Homo sapiens: one gene and its partner. The protein of the gene in region 2 purifies or fractionates together with the protein of the main gene of each other region. This does not show direct contact. Each region holds a gene or a part of one and is shown on either strand. Other genes may lie near its edges. The genes, in order: RAB10 and MLPH.

Region 1 (3,831 bases), about 210 Mb from region 2:
ATATTAGTATTCCATATATTTCAAAATGCCTAGAAGCAATATTATATTTCTATAACATGAAAAATAAAGTTTTAAAAAATTACTACCGGACATTTCATTCATTCAATAAAAATTTATTAAGAAAAAATTCATTTCCAGAAAATCATTGTAAAATCACTGGTAGCTTCTATTTGGGGTCATCTTGTAAGATGGCTATACAGAGTTTTGGAGTAATTTACTAATTGTCTTGAATGGGGCTCTAGATAGACTGTCCAAAAACTTAAGAAAAAATTAGCAAATAACAACATTAACTTTTTTTTTTTTTTTTTTGGAGACGGAGTCTTGCTCTGTTGCCCAGGCTGGAGTGCAGTGGCGCAATCTTGGCTCATTGCAACCTCTACCTCCCAGGTTCAAGAGATTCTCCTGCCTTGGACTCTTGAGTAGCTGGGACGACAGGTGCACATCACCACACCCAGCTGATTTTTATAATTTTTAGTAGTGATGGGGTTTCACCATGTTGGCCAGGCTGGTCTTTAGCTCCTGACCTCAGGTGATCCTCCCACCTCAGCCTCCCAAAGTGCTGGGATTACAGGCATGAGCCACCATGCCCGGCCAACATTAACTTTTAGAAAATAGAAATACTTCAATAATAATGACTTCAACAGTACATTATATCCTGAAGATCAGTTGGAATATTTATTCTTCCTAACCAAGCACACAAATGTGTGTTCATGAAGGGTTTATACAAGTTCTAGGTCTTACCTCATCTATGTTTCTAAGCCATTTGCTGATGTTTTCAAAACTTTTACCATTGGTGATGTCATATACTAGCATGATACCCATTGCGCCTCTGTAGTAGGAGGTTGTGATGGTGTGAAATCGCTCCTGGCCTGCTGTATCCCTGAAATAAACAGCCAATAATTTCTATTAAGCATTTTGATATTACTACATTTCACATAAAGGACAAAACAAGAATAGTTTTTCCTAAGTATATATAAAAACTTTTTAGTTGAAGGAAATTAATAACCTACCCATACTGGATGAAAATCTGAAAGGGAAAACAGTAGGAAGTGACACATAAAACTCAAGTTTATTGAATAAGCACTAGCAAACACCATAGAAACTCTTAAAATTTCATTTTATTTAATAATTTAGTTCCATAATGTAACACAAAAGCAGGTAGGATTTTTAGAACATTAGAGAACTATACCATAGTACAGTCATATTTACATTTAGAATCATTAACCAAAAGTTGTAAAGATAACCTCACTTATAAATAATAAGACAGAAATGTAAATAGTAGTATTTTCCATTATTTAATGCTTAAAGCCAAAGGTGTAAGATGTATTTTGCTCCTGTAACTATGCCCTCTCATTTGTATCATCATTTTGCTCTTTTATGGATCATCTCATCAGCTTACAAACATGTTTTAGTATCTTTTTTAAAAAAGCAAAAATAAGGTCGGGCGCAGTGGCTCACACTTGTAATCCCAGCCCTTCGGGAGGCTGAGGCGTGTAGATCACTTAAGGTCAGGAGTTCAAGACACTTGGCCAACATGGTGAAACCCCATCTCTACTAAAAATACAAAAATTAGCCCGGCATGGTGGCACGTGCCTGTAATCCCACCTGCTCGGGAGGCTGAGGTAAGAGAACTGCTTGAACACAGGAGGCACAGGTTGCAGTGAGCCAAGATGGTGCCACTACACTCCAGCTTGGGTGACAGAGCGAGACTCCGTCTCAAAATAAATAAATAAATAAATAAATAAATAAATAAATAAATAAATAAATATAAAGCAAAAGACCCCAATCTCAACCCTGTATCTCTCCAACTATCCCTGCTCCTCTTTCGAGTTAATATTTTTAAAACTTTTATTTTGAAATAATTACAGCCTTACAGGAAGTTACAAAACTGTGCAGAGAGGTCCTGGGTACCTTTCACCCAGCTTTTCCTAATGATAACATCTTATATTACTGCAGCATAATAGCAAAACCAGAAAATGGACATTGGATACAATCTACAGACCTTATTAAGATTTCAGGGTTTTTTTTTTTTACATGCACTTATTTGTGTATGTGTGTATATATAGTTCTCTACAATTTATTACATGTACAGATTTGTGTAACTACCACAAGACAAAGAACTATTACATCACCTCTTTACTCCCCATAGTCCCTAAACTCTGATCAATAATCTGTTTTCTATGTTTATATTTTTTTCATTTCCAGAATGTTACGTAAGTGGAATCATGTAGTATGCTACCTTTTGAAATCGGCATTTAACACTTCTTTCACCATAATGCTCTTGAAGTCCTCTCAAGTTTTGCACATAATCCTGGTCTGTCCCATTTCATTGCTGGGTAGCATTCTATGGTATGTCTGTATCACAATTTGCTTAATTATTCACCCATGGAAGGACATTCAGGGTTGTTTCCAGTTTTTGGCTATAACAAAGTTCGAAGAATATTCATTTACAGGTTTCTATGTGGACATAATTTTTCATTTCTTTGAAATAAATGCCCAGGAATGTTATTTATGGGTAATATGGTAAGTGTATAACGGTAAGAAACTGGCCAACTTTTTCCAGAGTGGCTCTATCACTTGACATTTGCACTAGCAACATATAAAAGATCCAGTTTCTCTGCATCCTCACCAGCATTTGATGCTGTCACTTTTTTATTTCTGTAGTTCTAAGAGGGCACATAGTAATATTTCATCATCACATTAATCTGTATTTCCCTGTGGCTAAGATGGTGAACATTTTTTCATGTGTTTATTTGCCATCCACATGTCCTCTTTGGTGAAATGTCTGGTTTTTTTTTTTGCCCATTTTCTAATTGGATTGTTAGTTTTTTGTTTTTGGGGTTTTTTTTTTGAGATAGAGTTTCGATCTTGCCGCCCAGGCTGGAGTGCAATGGCACAGTCTCGGCTCACTGCAACCTCTGCCTCCTGGGTTCAAGTGATTCTCCTGCCTCAGCCTCCCAAGTAGCTGGGATCACAGGCGCCCACCACCACGCCCAGCCAACGGTTGTATTTTTAGTAGAAATGGGGTTTCACCATGTTGGCCAGGCTCGTCTCAAACTCCTGACCTCAGGTGATCAGCCCGCCTCAGCCTCCCAAAGTGCTGGGATTACAGGCGTGAGCCACCGTGGCTGGCCTGGATTGTCAGTTTTTTTGTCTTTTTACTGCTGACTTTTGAAAGTTCTTTTTATACAGAAGTCCTTTGTCAGATACACTGGCTTGTAAATATTTTCTCCAAGTCTGTAGCTAGTCTTTTCATTCCCTTGACAGGGTATTTTGTAGAGAGGAAGCTTTTAATTTTGTGAAAGTCTAATTAATTTACTGATTTTTTTTTCTTTTACAGATCATGTGTTTAGTGTTATGTCTAAGAATTCTTCACCTAGTCTTTTTTTTTTTTTTTTTTTTGAAACAGGGTGTCGCTCTGTTGCCCAGGCTGGAGTGTAGTGGCACGATCTTGGCTCACTGCAACCTCCGCCTCCCAGGTTCAAGAGATTCTCCTGCCTCAGCCTCTGGAATAGCTGAGATTACAGGCACGTGCCACCACATGCAGCTAATTTTTATATTTTTAGTAGAGATGGGTTTTCGCCATGTTGGCCAGGCTGGTCTTGAACTCCTGGCCTCAGATGATCTGCCCGCCTCAGCTTCCCAAAGTGCTGGGGTTACAGGCGTGAGCCACCACACCCAGCCTCTTCACGTAGTCTTATGTTCCAAAGATTTTCTCCTGTATTTTCTTCTAAAAGCCTTATGGGTCTTTTTTTCTTTTTTTGAGACAGAGTCTTGCTCTGTCGCCCAGGCTGGAGTGCAGTGGTGTGATCTCGGCACATTGCAACCTCT
Region 2 (2,903 bases):
TTTTCTGGAGTTTAAGTGCCCTCCAGAGTTTTCCCATTGGTTACTTGGTTATACTCTATGCAGATGAAGGAGTGGCCCCAACCAATGTGATCAGTCGCAGGAGGCAACCAATCAGAGGCTGAAGGGAAGTTACAAAGTTACACATGAAGACTTGGCCGATGACCAGTCTGGTTGGTTGCGGGAGGGGACCAATCCGAGGTACTTTCCATTTTCATCTGAGATGCAGTGGAAAGGGGGTATAGCAAAGGGAGTAGCTGCTGAACCTTTTGTTCCTCAGGCATGGAGAGGTGGGGTTTTCATTTTGATTCAGTTCTAGGAAGTCAGCACGAATTGGCCTTAGGTTCCCTGCCTCCAGACCCTATTCTCTTGCCTCACATGCATGTGTGCACAAACGTGTAATCTAAATTTGTGTCTACAGATGTGCACATCCATGTACACACCTGTGTATTTGTATGTGCATGCCCATGTGTGTCTGTGTTACATGCCTGTGTATGTGTGTGCTTATATGTGCATGTGTGTTTGTACTTTACAGAAACCTGTGGTGGCCCACCAGTCCTAACGGGACAGGACAGAGAGACAGAGCAGCCCTGCACTGTTTTCCCTCCACCACAGCCATCCTGTCCCTCATTGGCTCTGTGCTTTCCACTATACACAGTCACCGTCCCAATGAGAAACAAGAAGGAGCACCCTCCACATGGACTCCCACCTGCAAGTGGACAGCGACATTCAGTCCTGCACTGCTCACCTGGGTTTACTGATGACTCCTGGCTGCCCCACCATCCTCTCTGATCTGTGAGAAACAGCTAAGCTGCTGTGACTTCCCTTTAGGACAATGTTGTGTAAATCTTTGAAGGACACACCGAAGACCTTTATACTGTGATCTTTTACCCCTTTCACTCTTGGCTTTCTTATGTTGCTTTCATGAATGGAATGGAAAAAAGATGACTCAGTTAAGGCACCAGCCATATGTGTATTCTTGATGGTCTATATCGGGGTGTGAGCAGATGTTTGCGTATTTCTTGTGGGTGTGACTGGATATTAGACATCCGGACAAGTGACTGAACTAATGATCTGCTGAATAATGAAGGAGGAATAGACACCCCAGTCCCCACCCTACGTGCACCCGCTCTGCAAGTTCCCATGTGATCTGTAGACCAGGGGAAATTACACTGCGGTCAAGGGCAGAGCCTGCACATGACAGCAAGTGAGCATTTGATAGATGCTCAGATGCTAGTGCAGAGAGCCTGCTGGGAGACGAAGAGACAGCAGGCAGAGCTCCAGATGGGCAAGGAAGAGGCTTGGTTCTAGCCTGGCTCTGCCCCTCACTGCAGTGGATCCAGTGGGGCAGAGGACAGAGGGTCACAACCAATGAGGGATGTCTGCCAAGGATGGGGGTGCAGAGGCCACAGGAGTCAGCTTGCCACTCGCCCATTGGTTACATAGATGATCTCTCAGACAGGCTGGGACTCAGAGTTATTTCCTAGTATCGGTGTGCCCCATCCAGTTTTAAGTGGAGCCCTCCAAGACTCTCCAGAGCTGCCTTTGAACATCCTAACAGTAATCACATCTCACCCTCCCTGAGGTTCACTTTAGACAGGACCCAATGGCTGCACTGCCTTTGTCAGAGGGGGTGCTGAGAGGAGTGGCTTCTTTTAGAATCAAACAGTAGAGACAAGAGTCAAGCCTTGTGTCTTCAAGCATTGACCAAGTTAAGTGTTTCCTTCCCTCTCTCAATAAGACACTTCCAGGAGCTTTCCAATCTCTCACTTAAAACTAAGGTTTGAATCTCAAAGTGTTGCTGGGAGGCTGATACTCCTGCAACTTCAGGAGACCTGTGAGCACACATTAGCAGCTGTTTCTCTGACTCCTTGTGGCATCAGATAAAAACGTGGGAGTTTTTCCATATAATTCCCAGCCTTACTTATAAATTCTATTCTTTGAAAAAATTATTCAGGCTAGGTAAGGTGGCTCATACCTATAATCCCAGCCCTTTGAGAGGCCAAGGTGGGAGAATTGCTTGAGGCCAGGAGTTTGAGACCTCCTGGGCAACATAGTGAGATCCCATCTCTACAAAAAACAAAACAAAAAAATTACCCAAGCATGATGGTATATGCCTGTAGTCGTACCTACTTACTTAGGAGGCTGAGGCAGGAGGATCACTTGAGCCCTGGAGGTTGGGGCTGCAGTGAGCCATGATCGCATCACTATACTCGAGCCTGGGCAACAGAGTGAGACCTTGTCTCTTAAAAAAATTAATAATAAATAAATGAAAATAATTCTTCAGAGTTCCTTTCCTAGCAGATGGCTATTCTGGAGATGTGTAGTGGAAGCTGCATACAGGCAGGTCAGGGATCCCTGAGGCTAGTGTACCCCAACCAGTACAGCTGCTGGCTCTTTGTTTCCAGCTAAAGATTGACAGAAGTCAGTGGTTTCTCTATGACTCCAGAGGGAGATTAGAGACAAGCATTTAAAATATTTCTCCAAAGTTTTATCCTCCAACAGTCTTATTTATAAGGGGAAAAAGAAAAAATTTTAGGAAGCGTTGAATGCACAGATCTCCCAAAGATGCTTCTTACAAATGAGCTATGAGTGTGCAGCAAAATTGCACTCCCCAGATAATCCAGTATCCAACATATTGCAATATAGCACCCAGATCACCAAGGGATACCTTGCCTCACTGCAGATTATTGGGGTGAAACACAATTTGACAGGTGTAGCTCCCAGCTCTCAGGGATCAAACCAACCATGCATTACAGTGTTGCAGTTTCACTGATTTTATGTCAAGCCATTGTTTCTGTAAGTTCCAAGGATTTTCACTTTCCAACAGCTCTATCCAAAAGAACCCACTTTACTGGGGGCCAAAAACCCATCCCCAAAAGAGTAATAGTAATGGTATTGTCACT

The links.
Region 1: the proteins of MLPH (region 2) and RAB10 purify together in Homo sapiens (affinity purification with western blotting, with the first as the bait; one study listed by BioGRID). This does not show direct contact.

The regions. Positions count from the first base shown.
Region 1 is NC_000002.12:26,106,817-26,110,647, reverse strand, and holds part of RAB10 (ras-related protein Rab-10), read right to left. Parts: intron 881-3,831; coding exon 742-880; intron 1-741. UniProt on the Homo sapiens protein: The small GTPases Rab are key regulators of intracellular membrane trafficking, from the formation of transport vesicles to their fusion with membranes.
Region 2 is NC_000002.12:237,553,034-237,555,936, forward strand, and holds the end of MLPH (melanophilin), read left to right. Parts: intron 1-63; coding exon of another isoform or gene 64-90; exon of another isoform or gene 91-198; intron 199-532; coding exon 533-559; 3' UTR 560-2,289; downstream 2,290-2,903. UniProt on the Homo sapiens protein: Rab effector protein involved in melanosome transport. Serves as link between melanosome-bound RAB27A and the motor protein MYO5A.